2 linked regions of the Homo sapiens genome follow. The protein of the gene in region 1 interacts with the protein of each later gene in a biochemical or structural test. Each region holds a gene or a part of one and is shown on either strand. Other genes may lie near its edges. The genes, in order: CAPRIN2 and LRP5.

Region 1 (7,275 bases):
TTACCGAGTGAAACTTATTAGAAATATTAATTTGTACTTTGTCCCAAAAGAATACATTGGTTAAAAGGAGCCATTTATGGAATTTGAATAAACTTCTCTGTTAAACTACTAGTAGGATAATTCTGTTTAAAATTGTTTACAGTGGAAGTTAGAGTAGAAACCAGTACTGTAGTGGAATGAGGATGTAATTAACCTAAGGTCGAAATACTGATTCAGGGGAAAAAAGTGCTAAAGTCAGTAAAGAAAATATACTTTTAAAATTATCATTTGCCTGGGGAAGAAATACTTTGAGCAAGTGGCACTTCTGCTTTTGTTTACCAAAGTTGGATTTATTAAAGAAATACCTCTTCTCAGGAGGTAGTCCAGGCAGGGTTCTGGTAGCCATAAGCAAGAGCGAAACCATTTTCCATGTTTATTTCCCCTTAGTTCTTAATACTAAGTGCAGTGCTTAAGTATCTCCACTCTCTTATCCCCTCCTAACCTTAAACTGGCTTGTAAGAGGTTTTTAAGGGCTCTATTTCAAGCTGAGATGACCAATTTTTACCCCATGGGACATGAGCTATAATGCTAACTTGAAAAAAAGCTGTGTTTTAGGGTAAGAAGAAATAGTGTTATTTTCAATCAGATATCAGTTTTAAACTGAAACTTGACTTTCGTAAAGTGTCTTACATAAGGAGAGCTACTAGTTTGAACTAGCCTCAGACCACATGCTTTGGACTAACAAGGAATATAATTCCTCTTGCCATCAATATACTTGATTATATTACCCTTTTTCTGTTACGAGTCTTCTGAAATATGTTGCTAGAATGAATTATAGTTGTAATCTGTCTAAAAACTTACAGTTCACCTAGTATTTATTCAGATTCTTTTTATCATCCCAGAGTCTCTAATGGAATTTGCCCAGCCAGAGATACAACCACAAGAGGTAAGATACTGAAAGACAATTTGCTGATGTTGATTTTTCAGCCTTTTGCATAGGGTTATGGTTGGAAGCTAAGGCTCTGGAGCCAGACTGCCTGAGCTTGAACCCTGGTTCTGCAGTTTACTAGCTTAGGGACTTTGGGCAAGAAATCTGGTCCAGCTGTGTCTGTTATCCTCATATGTAAAATAGGGATAACGTTAATGACTACTTCATGGGGTTATTGTGAGGATTAAAGAGGTTGATCTAAATTCTAAATTACTTAGAATTTGGTCTGGCACACGAACTGCCCAAATGATAGCTATTTTTGGCTCCTGTGTTAGAGGAACTTTAAGATGCGCAGGACTTTGCTCTCTCCAGAATTTACTCACATTGGTAGCAGAAAAGGGTATTTGTTCTCTTTCTGAAGTGACATTGAAATTCATGGGAAGCTGAAAAGAATGGGAGATTCAAAAACAGTGTCATTGATGTATAAGGGAAATAAAGAAAACACTGGTAACTTAGGAAATGTCACGTTTAAGGTTACATAATTTAACTTTGAAGTTGAACTATCTTCTGCCTTTTAATGTTTGAGGGAGTCAACTGGGGAGAATGGTCCTAAGGCTGGCAAAGGCGGAACAGCCTTGGTAGAAGAATCCGAATCAAGCAATTCTTGCCAGTCTTAGGCAAGTCCAACAGAAGTTGCTACTTTTGATGTATCGAAGTCTGTATTTCTGTTAATTGAGGAAAAAGGAATGGACAGAAAAGTAGGAAAGTAGGAAAGAGAAGTAGGAAAGTCTTTTCAAGTAGAATAAGGACAGAAATTTAATATTAGTGCAACAACTTAGATCAGAGGACATAGCAATACTAATAGAGTTGAATATTCCCTCCAAGGTCTTCTATGAATTTTGTGACTTAAGTGCATTGTTTCTCTATCTAGTTTCTTAACAGACGCTATATGACAGAAGTAGATTATTCAAACAAACAAGGCGAAGAGCAACCTTGGGAAGCAGATTATGCTAGAAAACCAAATCTCCCAAAACGTTGGGATATGCTTACTGAACCAGATGGTCAAGAGAAGAAACAGGAGTCCTTTAAGTCCTGGGAGGCTTCTGGTAAGCACCAGGAGGTATCCAAGCCTGCAGTTTCCTTAGAACAGAGGAAACAAGACACCTCAAAACTCAGGTCTACTCTGCCGGAAGAGCAGAAGAAGCAGGAGATCTCCAAATCCAAGCCATCTCCTAGCCAGTGGAAGCAAGATACACCTAAATCCAAAGCAGGGTATGTTCAAGAGGAACAAAAGAAACAGGAGACACCAAAGCTGTGGCCAGTTCAGCTGCAGAAAGAACAAGATCCAAAGAAGCAAACTCCAAAGTCTTGGACACCTTCCATGCAGAGCGAACAGAACACCACCAAGTCATGGACCACTCCCATGTGTGAAGAACAGGATTCAAAACAGCCAGAGACTCCAAAATCCTGGGAAAACAATGTTGAGAGTCAAAAACACTCTTTAACATCACAGTCACAGATTTCTCCAAAGTCCTGGGGAGTAGCTACAGCAAGCCTCATACCAAATGACCAGCTGCTGCCCAGGAAGTTGAACACAGAACCCAAAGATGTGAGTTGATCTGTATCATTCTGCTTCTGTAAGTGTAGGCATAAATAAGGTGTCGTGGTAATGACTTTTTAGTTCTCTTTTTTTTTTTTTTTTGAGATGGAGAAACACTCTGTTACCCAGGCTGGAGTGCAGTGGCACTATCTCTGCTCACTGTAACCTCCGCCTCCTGGATTCAAGCGATTCTCTTGCCTCAGCCTCCTGAGTAGCTGGGACTACAGGCGCATGCCACCACACCTGGCTAATTTTTTTGTATTTTTAGTAGAGACGGGGTTTCACTGTGTTAGCCAGGATGGCCTGGATCTCCTGATCTCGTGATCCAACCGCCTCGGCCTCCCAAAGTGCTGAGATTACAGGCGTGAGCCATTGTGCCCGGCCTTAGTTCTCTTCAAAGCCCATGTGAAGTTAATGTATAAAATATTTCACCCTCTTTAGTGGGTAGATTTATTGTTTTCCCTTGAAAACTGGGAGTTAATCTAGTCTGTCTTTAAGTCTAATCTGAGATGAAATTTCTGCAATTATAAAATGTTGTTTTAATGCCAAATTTTAACAATATAACATGATATGAAAATAGTAGATAGTTTAGATAAGACCATAATGACATAATGTGAACAAGTGAGTAATGCAAATGCTTGTCACAGGATGGGAGATACTGTATTTCATTTGTTGTCATTTACCTGCTATACGAATAACTTTTTCTGACAAGTTATATTTTTCTATATTCTCTTGCTTCTCTTCTACTCATTTATGGTCACTCAGTTTAGCCCAGGTCTTTATGAAGAAGGTTTATGGTGGTTGCAGATATTTCAGTATTGGGGGAAGGATTTGAATTAGTTCTCTATTTCCATTTCAAAATGAGAATTTTTCCAAAGATAGGAAAACTGTTGGCATTAAATATTTTGTAGTTAGGTTTTGGAGAACAAGATTCAGTTAAAACATAAGGCCACATTCTTTTAAGGATAAATAACCTGTTTCAGGTAGATAACACTTACATTGAATAATTCTTGGGTACAGTGCTATGTTAGGGTTGCCTTTTATTAAATTGTAAATTACTTATTTACTACTATTTATAATGCAAACTTGTTACCACCTCATTTGCTGAGATATGTGAACTTGTGCTTCCAGTGTTCTCTATCTCTATGGAGTAGTCTTCCTTGCACATCTGTGCCATTTTAGCTAAAGGCTTTCTGATAAACCATTGGACCTCTAATATAATAATATGAAAAACATTTTGCTTGGGGAAAGCAAAGCATTGCATTTTATAAGTAAATTACCTTTGGCTTAATTCTGTATGGGAACAAAATTTTAGAGTTATTTGGCTATTTTGCTCTCCTTTCTCTCTCAAGTTGCTAATATTAATTTTAGCTTCTTCCTGACCCTACAGAAGATTGTCAGCTTTATTTTATTAACCAAATATCACACAACAGTAACTGTAATGTAACTATTTTGAAAAACATTTAAAAACCCAATTTAATATCTCAAAGCTGCTTTTAAAAACCTGACTTAAAATTCCAGTAGGTGTAGCAATGCAGAACCTTTATCATACCAGAATATTATCATGCTATTTGATGAATTGCATTTAAAATCAGTGTTACATATTTGGAAAGGTCAAAACATATTTAATTTGCTTTTGTGGGACAGATAGCGTTATATTGAAGTTGTAGGGTTTTTCAGTTACTGAGAGGAGAGGATACTTCTATGTGTAATATAGTATTTTTCTGTCTTTCTTGGAATCTGAGCTGTCTAGAATATTGACTAAGTACAGTCAAGTGCAGAATAGAGTTCAAAGCCAAAAGACTAGATAACATGAAATTAATCACTGATGTTCATACCTTCCTCCTAAAAGAGTCCCATATGTACTCACTTATGGTCTCTTAACTCTTATTTTATCTGGTACCTTTGACAAACTTAGCTGTGTGTCTTCTTTGATTAGAAGGTGGAGAAGAGGAGCTAGTGGAGACTGGCATGTTGACAGCTATAAAAAGTAACTGTAAATTGGTCTAATTCAGAATGTGCATCAATTTTAAGCAATTTAGGATGGATATCAGTAGCCCCCAAGAGTGTACTTACTTTATAACAAAATATATGTATCCCTCTCAATTTTAGGGTATGTGTATGTATGTACTTATATATGTATTTACATTTTGATTTCTGAAATCAGATACATCTTAAAACTGGGATGTACATTTAATGTGGTAGTAGTAATTTTTGCCCTGGAAAAAAAAATCATTGGTATGTCTTATTGTCAGTGGCATCTTATCCTAGAGGACATATGGTAACTCATGTCCATAATGAAAACACTCTTAACAAGGAAGTTCTGCTGGATCTTCCCTTTAAAAGGAATATTTTGTGTTTTAGAAAGAGTTCCATGAAAATTGTGAAGGGGAAAAATCTGTTTAAAGTTTGCTTATTTAGAAAAGGTATTTATGAGAAAATTCTTTACCTGTGATAAGTGAACATTGCTGTTTTTTCTTTTCCTTTAAGATGTAGTGATAAACTGTTTCCTAGATTAGGCTCTTGAATTTGCATTTCACTCTTACACATTATGGGTTTATCTTGTAGGTGCCTAAGCCTGTGCATCAGCCTGTAGGTTCTTCCTCTACCCTTCCGAAGGATCCAGTATTGAGGAAAGAAAAACTGCAGGATCTGATGACTCAGATTCAAGGAACTTGTAACTTTATGCAAGTATGAGTCATTTACAAAATCTTAAATGATATTCATGGGGCTTCTGACTGGAAACATTACAGTGAAATTATTAAGAGCATAGATTATTCTGTCAAGTCCTGGCTCTGCTGCCTCCTAGCTCTCCTAGCCTGGAGTTTAGGCAAATTACTTGATTCTGCCTCAGTTTATTTATTTGAAAAATGAGGATTATTGTTCCTACTTTCTAAGTTTGTTAGAACAAAAAAAAATGAATTAAGCATGTGAAAAGCTTAACTTGCTCAAGGATCATTACTGCTATAGATTATCAGTACTGAGAACTGTGAGAACCTACTCTGTGCCTGATATTGTTAGATACCATTGTAGTACAGATACAGAAAATGAGACATTCATTGCCTTCAAGGAATTTATATTCCAGTTGTAGAAGATTGTAAATTTATGTTAAATCAATAGTTAAATGATAAATTGTGTTATACAATATGTTTAAGTTGTGAGATACAGACACAGAATTTGAGAATGGTATGAGATTACTGAGGGCTAAAGTAGTCAAATAAGTATTTTTGTTTAGTAAAAGATCCTGAGCTTTGAATATGGGCCTGGGTTTAAATTCTGTTACTTACCAGCTGTTTATTTAACCTCCAACACTTATTTGCAAAATGTAGGAATTGCCTATACCATCAGATTAGTTGAAGATGTAAGAACTAAAATGCTCCCTGCAAATGTGTAGCTTAAGTATGCAAAATACTGGAAACTTTTCTGAGAGAACCGAGATAGGCAGATACAAGAGCGTGATTTCTCATCTTGAAAATGTTTTAACAGCATGAGCTAGTAAATGGTTGAGATAAATAGATGCTCTTTGGTTGGGTGTAATAAAAATGGGGGTTCTGATTAGACTAGGATTGATGGCTATGTTTAGGACCTTAGTAAGGTCAAGAGTTTCTTTTCTGACTTAGGCCTTAGATTTAGTATTGTAGGCTTTTGTTTTGTTTTGTTTAAAGACAGGGTCCCACTCTGCTTGTCGAGGCTAGGGTGCAGTGGTGTGGTCAAAGCTCACTGCAGCCTCGAATTCCTGGGCTCAAGCGATCCTCTTGTTTTAGCCTCCTGAGCATCTGGGACTACAGGCACATACCACCATGCCTAGCTAATTCTTCAAAAAATTTTTAGTAGCAACAAGGTCTCGCTTTTTTTCCATGCCGGTCTCGAACTCCTGAGCTCAAGCGATCCTTCTACCTCAGCCTCCCAGAGTGCTGGGGTTACAGGTGTGAGCCACTGCGCACGGCCTACTCTTGTGGTTTTAGCACTCTACACAGCCTTAAGTTATGGCAGTTACTTTAGATTTTATTTTTAATTCTTAATTTCTTTATCTATGGAGACTAGTTTTGGCATCCTGAGACAGTGATTAGCTAGATACCTATAGCTTTAGCTAGATATTTATGTGTAGCTAATAGACTATAGGCAGCATCATGAATAATTCAATGGTAATAGCTTTTAAATGAGTAATCTCTGTTTCCACTCTTTATTTAAAATCATATCTTTAGGAGTCTGTTCTTGACTTTGACAAACCTTCAAGTGCAATTCCAACGTCACAACCGCCTTCAGCTACTCCAGGTAGCCCCGTAGGTATGTAATCATTCTAAAGACTTGGAGCAAACGTCTTGAGCTAACAGCTATTTGTTGTTGTTGTCTTTTCAAATGATTTTATTTTAGATGTCCTAATATGTTGGTGTATTAATTTATTCTAACTGTATCCATCTGTTACCAGTTATATGTGGGTAAATTACCATTAGGACATTAGTGTACTTAACTGACTTGTTTTCATTTTTTGGAGAAAGGCTCTGGATGGGTGAATGGAAATACTCAATAGCTGTTTTTGTAATTTATGTTGTTGGTGGAGTGAATTCTGACTAGAAGTTGCTTGACTCCTTTGGACTCTAAATCTAGTGTTGAGGCTTTTGGGTCTTAACTACGGGTGTGATTACCACAATGAAGTGTAGAACAGTGATTAACACAGTAACTAACAAAAGAGCCTGCATTCAAATCTGGTCTGATGCTTCAAAGCTTGGGCTTTTTGCTCCACATTTGTTTCTCTCCAGAGAGGAGT
Region 2 (7,275 bases), on another chromosome or scaffold:
ATGCAGGCCGGACTCTGGACCCACCCCGCTGTGTCGCCAGGGCTCATCACTTACCCTCTCTGAGCCTCAATGGTCCCACCTCTACCATGGGCATGCCCGCACCTGCCCTGCAGCCTGCCAAGCCTGGGCCCTGGCAAGGCTGCCTCTAAGGAGAACGAGGCCTCTAGAGCCTGCTAGCTGACCTTGGCCAGGAACTTACTTGACCTCTTCGAGCTTTAGTTTCTCATTGATAAAAGTGGGGATGAAATAGTACCCATTTCGAAAGTGAAGGATACATGAGATTCTGCCTGGAAGGTGCTAGAAACAGTGTCCGACAAAACAGGAGACTGGACAACTGTTCACCTAACACTGTTACTGTAAATGTTGGCAACCGATAGGGTTTGGCTGTGTCCCCACCCAAATCTCATCTTGAATTGTACTCCCATAATTCCCACGTGCTGTGGGAGGGACCCAGTGGGAGATGATTGAATCATGGGGGTGGTTCCCCCCATACTGTTCTCGTGGTAGTGAATAAATCTCACTAGACTTGATGGTTTTACAAGGGGAAACCCCTTTCGCTTGGTTCTCATGCTGTCTGTTCCCTGAAGCCATGTAAGATGTGACTTGCTCCTCCTTGTCTTCTACCATGATTGTGAGGCCACCCCAGGCAGGTGGAACTGTGAGTCCGTTAAACCTCTTTCCTTTACAATTACCCAGTCTTGGGTATGTCTTTATTAGCAGCGTGAGAACAGGCTAATACAGCAACCAATGGGCCCGGAACACTTCCATCCTGAGTTCAAGCAACCTGACTCGCAAGATGGCTCCTGACCTCCCATCCTCCCAGAGGCTACCTGCACCCAACTGTGGCCCAGAAACGCCGCATCCCACTGTGTGAGTTCAGACTCGGAACTGTGGTGTGTTTAGGAGCCCCCGTCCTGTCACAGAGGGGCCTGCAATGGGTGGGAAGGTGCAGCCAACACCGGGTGTTGAGAAAAGTGCAGCAGGACAGGATACTCCTCTTGGGGCCCAGCTGCTGTGAGGTCAGACGGCGGGCGGGGGGAAGATGTGTCCGCGGTGGGCCCAGAGCAGGACGGGCATGAGCAAAGGCAGGAGGTGGGACGAGGAACTAGCGAGACTGGGCTGCCCAGTGTGGATGTGACCATTCTGGAGACAGTGGTCTGTAAGGCTGTGGGACAGACTGTGACAGTTTGATATAATACTGAGGCATCAGGGAGGTGGCCCGACCCGGAGTGGGGTGGAAATGGAGGCTGCAGTTCCGGCTCCCCAGCCAGGCCTGGGAGTTCGTGGAAATGGCCACTAGGTGGCAGGCGGCACCACACTCGGGAGGCCCTGCTGCTCCAGGGACCCAAGCAATGAGGAATGCGTGGTCCAGAGGTGTCCTGGCCCAGGCCCAGCCTATCCCACCCCTTCACCTGCGGGGGTGGGGCCTGGTGCGGCTGGCGGGTGGGCCACGTTGCCTGACACCACTGGGTTAAAGGTCAGGAGGCTCACCCTGCCCATCCCAGGCTCTGATCCAGCCCCTGCGGAGACCAGCACACCTGGGTCCCACCTCTCCACACTCTCAGTTGCCCCTCCCCAACCAGGGAGGTGGGGCCTGTGACCCCAACATGGGCAGCTCGGGGGGCTGGTGTCCAGCTGAGCAGCCCCGTTGGCTTCCCGGGCTCAAACAGGCCACTGTGGCAAGTGAGCAGCCCGGACCATCCTGGTGACGTCACACGATTAGGGGTCTACGGTGGGTGCTGCAGCAGCCTTCACAGACTTGTCCCATCCTAAGAGGACAGAGCCACCAAGAGGGGGCATCTCAATGGCTAGGTTTCCACAGCCGGACTCAAACACACAGTCAGACTCTGGAGCCCAAGCCCCCGGCCCCTCGACGCCACAGCCATTTCCCAGCTTAAAAGTAACCCCCATAGGAGCAACTTGAAGAGCAGCTCAGAACGTGGAGTTCTGCTGATTTCTGAACCCAACATGCAGTGCCCGCTGAGCTTGTCTGGGGAGGCAGCCTAGTGTGGTTGGCAGAGCAGAGGGAGGCAGGGCTGGGCCCGGCACCTGCCCACTAGCACCCAGAATACCTCCCCTCATCAGTGGCATGGGGATTAGGCCCCTCCACCACGGGCTGGCGGGAACCCAATGGCCATGGAGGGCTGCAGGGGATGTCCTACCTGTACGGTCTCGCAGTGGCCGGAATGTTTGAAGAGTAGAACATGTCCATGTTGTACAGGGAGGGGTCCGTGGCCGGGGAGGGCGGCGGGTTCAGGATCTGAGGAGAGCCAAGCCAGGGTGACTTAGAGCCTCGCCAGCCTGGGCATTCCTTCCTTCCTCCCACACCCCTCGGGCTTTCCTTGCAGAGAGGGCTTCTGGCCCCCCTGCTTCCCAGGACCCCTTCCTCTGGCCAGTTGGCAAAACCTGGGGACAGGAGGGGAGGCAGCAGCCACCTGCCCCGAAGGTCATCTCAGTGAAAGGCAAAGGGAACCCAGGCACTTTTGGCCCAGGTGCCCGCGCCCTTCCAAGTACCTGCCTTGTGACCAGATGCTGGGCTGTGAAGGCGGGGACAGGACTTCGGCCAGTTCCCTTTGTGGCTGGCCCCCAGCAGTAGGAGATGTCCCCACAGGCCCTGAGTGTCCTCCACACCAGTTAGCACCTCACCAGGCTCCTCAGGGACCTTCCCAGGAACTCTCCTTCTGACCTTTCCTCCTGCCCCTCCTCCCTCCATCACACACAGTCTAACTCCTGCAATGACGCCCTTGTTCCGAACACTCAGGGGCTCTGCGTCCCTGCTGAAGCCCTGACACAGAAGTCACCACGCTGAGGGAGGGGCCACAGTCCCACTCCAGACAAAGGCACCCCCTTCACAAGGGCCTGTGCTGGCACCAGCCCCAAAGCGGGGATAGTAAATAGACAAATTCACCACGTGAACGTGCCCCCCAGGTCCAGGCAGCACACAACCAGCCCTACAAAGGGAGGAAGGGACCAGGGGCCCTGGGCCCACACACCCACACAGGTCTGCACCTTCCACAAGTGCCACTGACGGCACCCCAACCCAACATGCAGCTTCCCAAAGGGTGTAGGGCTTATGTGGGTCTCCAAGGCCATCCTGGAAAGCATACAGCCAGATCCGAGCCCCTGCGGAATAATGGGAACAGAACTGTCAGTTATGCCCGAGGGACTCAGTTCTCTCAGGCCCCCTAGGGTGGTACAAGAACACTGCCTTTCACGCCAGACAGACCCGGGTGAAGTCCTGTTTTACCACCTTCTGGCTGCAGCAGGATCCCTGGGGAGGGAATTTACCTCAGCCTCAGTTTCTTCAACTTTAAAATGGGCTTGACCTAGCACTTTGGGAGGCCGAGGCGGGCGGATCACTTGAGGTCAGGAGTTCGAGACCAGCCTGGCCAACATGGTGAAACCTCATCTCTACTAAAAATATGAAAATTAGCCGGGTGTGGTGGCGGGCACCTGTAATCCCAGCTACTTGGGAGGCTGAGGTGGGAGAATCCCTTGAACCCTGGAGGCAGAGGCTGCAGTGGGTTGAGATCGCACCACTGCACTCCAGCCTGGGCAACAGAGTGAGACTCTGTCTCAAAAAATAAATTTAAAATTAAATAAAATAATAAAATAAAGTAATAAAATGGGCTCGAGAAGGCCTGCTTCCTGGGGCTATCCTGATGGCTGGTGAGTAGCCTCTGGGGAGTGGCCAGGCCCTTCCCCTGCCCTTTAGGAAGCCGCACTGGGCCCTGCTCTTTCTGGAGAGGGTCCTCTTTGGCCCAGAGAGCCAGTCTGGGTATTCCTCAGGATTTGACCCCAACGTTGAGAGGGCATGAGACTGGGGGCACTGGGGAAGATGCTTCAAAGCAGAGAGCAGGCAGGGAGGCAGCAGAGAGGGCTTCCTACAGCTGCCCAAGCCCCAGCCTATGGGGTCTGTTTCCACCTCTTCCCATGAACTTGACCAGGCCTGGTTTCTCTCCTACATCCCAAGGCAGTTTGAGATTCTGCCCAAATCTGCACTGGGCAGACTTCTGGCAAGATCCACCAGTGCAGCGCCTCGGCAATGTCTCAGATGTCCCGTGAACCACGGCCAGGCCCTATTCAAAGAGGACTGGATCTCGGCCCAGGGTGGGGGGTGGGGGGTGGGGGCTGGGGAGGCCACTCGGCTCATCTGCTATTCCTGCGTTGTTGTTGTTTTGACTGAGTCTCGCTCTTGTTGCCCAGGCTGGAGTACAATGGCATGATCTCGGCTCACTACAACCTCTGCCTCCCAGGTTCAAGTGATTCTCCAGCCTCAGACTCCCGAGAAGCTGGGATTACAGGCATGCGCCACCACACCCAGCTAATTTTTTTGTATTTTTAGTAGAGATGGGGTTTCACTATGTTGGCCAGGCTGGTCTCGAACTCCTGACCTCAGGTGATCCACCCGCCTTGGTCTCCCAAAGTGCTGGGATGACAGGTGTGAGCCACCATGCCTGGCCTATTCCTGCATTCTTAGAGTTCTCTGTACATCTCACTGTTCAATTTCTGCTATTCCAGTCCCTGGTAATAAGCCTGTAGACGGAACTTTCTCTGTTCAAATTCTCATAGAGTTTCTGCCTCCTGATAGACCCCGACTAATTCACGCCACCCATAAGCCATCAGCCAAGAAACAAGCTGGATGCCCACCTTGCTCATCAAATCTAATTACATCCCAGAAGAATTAAAGATGTGAACGTAAAACGAAAGGAGGAGGACGTTAAGAAAGAGAGTGTGGGCTGGGCATGGTGGCTCACGTCTGTAATCCCAGCACTTTGGGAGGCCGAGGTGGGTGGATCACCTGAGGTCGCGAGTTCGAGACCAGCCTGACCAACATGGAGAAACCCCCGTCTCTACTAAAAGTACAAAATTAGCCAGGCATGGTGGTGCATGCCTATAATCCCAGCTACTCGGGAAGGTAAGGCAGGAGAATCACTCCAACCCGGGAGGCGGAGGTTACAGTGAGCTGAGATTGCGCCACTGCACTCCAGCCTGGGCAACAGGAGCAAAACTCTGTCTCAAAAAAAAAAGAGAGAGAGTGTGAAAATAAGTTGTTTTTTATGATCAGAGCAGGGAAGGCCTTTCTGAACATAACCAAAAAAAAAAAAAATATATATATATATATATATATATATATATATATATATATATGCCATAAAAGAGGAGATTGATAATTTCTTTTCTTTTCTTTTTTTTTTTTTTTTTTGAGACAGAGTCTCGCTCTGTCGCCCAGGCTGGAGTGCAATGGCGCGATCTCGGCTCACTGCAACCTCCGCCTCCCATGTTCAAGCAATTCTCATGCTTCAGACTCCCAAGTAGCTGGGATCACCATACCCGGCTAATTTTTAAATTTTTACTAGAGACGGGGTTTCTCCATGTTGGCCAGGCTGGTCTCAAACTCCCGGCCTCAAGTGATCCGCTCATCTCAGCCTCCTAAAGTGCTGAGATTACAGCTGCAAGCCATCACGCTGGGCCCAAAGGTTCTTAAACACACAAAATGATGCTTACATCATTCATGATAAAATAAATATAAATGAAGATCTTAACATGATACCATTTTTACTCTATATTAGACAGGTGGAGAGAAAGGGTGCCAGGGACCGTTTTGCCAGTGTGGCCCTCTGCTGAGAAAAGATGGACTGTCCCTTTCAGAGGGCCACTTGGCAGGAGTGGTTGAAACAGCCAAGGTTCAACCGCAGCAGGAGAGAGGACCATGATGCCCTCCAGTGGGGGCCCAGCCACGCCTGACAAGGAGTGCTGTTCAGCCACCAAGAATGTGACGGCTGTGTCCTCAAAACAGAACAAACTTCAGGGTGCGGGGGAAGCAGAGTAGAAGGTGGTTGTGAGTTGGATGGCCTGGCCCCACTGCCTACCAACCGAACGACCCAGGCCAGTGGTTCATGCTCAGTTCTTCAGCCTCCTTGTTGCAAAATGAGGAAAACAATAGCACCTCCTCCCGGAGATGGGTTACGGTAGAGCTCTAGGCAGGGTGCACACGGCAGCTGGGAGCCTCCGAAATGCTCAGAACAGCAGCTTTTATACATCGTTAGCAGCAAAAGGCAAGGCTCAATGTTGACTCTTCAGATGCTATCTTTCGGGCTTACGAAAACACATATGTCAGCCCAGGCGCAGTGGCTCATGCCTGTAATCCTACCACTTTGGGAGGCTGAGGCAGGAGGATCACTTTAGCTCAGGAGTTCAAGACTAGCCCAGGAAATTTAGTGAGGCCTCACCTCCACAAAAAATTTAAAAATTAGCCTGGCATGATGGTGCACACCTGCCATCTGAGCTACTTGAGGGGACTGAGGCAGGAGAATCGCTTGAGCCCAGGAGTTTGAGGCTGCAGTGAGCTGTGATTGTGCCACTGCACTCCCACTGGGTGACAGAGGAAGTTTGTCTCAAGAACAAACAAAAAACACTTATGTCAATCTGAATAAGGTGAAAGAATCGTTATCAGTGTCTTGCTTATGATAGGAATGGAAGTCATGCAAGATGGCAGGCAGCACTGGGGGAAACCAGGCAGAGGATAAATGGGTCTGTGCTCTTTCTCACAACTGCACATAAATCTACAATTATCTTCTGGCTTGGAAAACAAAGTCCACGCTCTTGTATGCTTGCATATGTACAGATGACCCCTGGGGGGACATAGAAGAAACACACTGCAGGAGGCCATGCCTCCCAGGGAGTCCTGCTTGGCGTCATGGGGGCGGAGTCTCTTTGGACTGCAGACTCTTCTGTATCTTTTGAATTTTGTACCATGAACATATATTTAAAGGATGCAAAATAACTTTGCTAATTTAAAAACAGCTGGCTTCATGCAGAGTTTCTTTTAGGGGCAGGAAAATGTTCTAAAATTAACTGTGGTGAGGGTTGCACACATCTGTGAATACACTAAAACCCACTGAACTGTACCCTTTTTTAAGTGGGTGAGTCATATGGTTAAACAATAAAGTGATTTAAAAAATTAGCTGGCTGCTCAGTGCCATCTCTTATTGCCTGATTAAGATCCTCCCAGCTCCCAAGGGAGAACAGGAAAAGAGAATTCGTGAGCTGCCTGCTGTGTGCTCGGGGGCCCTGCTTGGGTTCCTAGCACTCCTGGCTGGTTAAGCTGGGTTGCAGCAGCAGGAGCAGGGAAGAAGGGCAGTGGGTGTTTAAACTCTCGGCTTCTGGTTACCAGTTCCCTTTGTCCCTAAACAAAGCCAGGCCCTGGGGCCTCCAGAACACTCAGTTACTGTCCAGGAAACCAAGAAGAACCCTCTTCTGCTACTTCCTTCC

The links.
Region 2: the proteins of CAPRIN2 (region 1) and LRP5 form a complex in vitro, tested with the Homo sapiens proteins (one study listed by BioGRID).

What each region holds. Positions count from the first base shown.
Region 1 is NC_000012.12:30,723,889-30,731,163, reverse strand, and holds part of CAPRIN2 (caprin-2), read left to right. Parts: intron 1-881; coding exon 882-925; intron 926-1,838; coding exon 1,839-2,516; intron 2,517-5,075; coding exon 5,076-5,198; intron 5,199-6,712; coding exon 6,713-6,794; intron 6,795-7,275. UniProt on the Homo sapiens protein: Promotes phosphorylation of the Wnt coreceptor LRP6, leading to increased activity of the canonical Wnt signaling pathway.
Region 2 is NC_000011.10:68,441,421-68,448,695, reverse strand, and holds part of LRP5 (low-density lipoprotein receptor-related protein 5 isoform 1 precursor), read right to left. Parts: intron 3,124-7,275; coding exon of another isoform or gene 2,994-3,123; intron 2,261-2,993; coding exon 2,163-2,260; intron 1,770-2,162; coding exon of another isoform or gene 1,712-1,769; exon of another isoform or gene 1,539-1,711; intron 1-1,538. UniProt on the Homo sapiens protein: Acts as a coreceptor with members of the frizzled family of seven-transmembrane spanning receptors to transduce signal by Wnt proteins.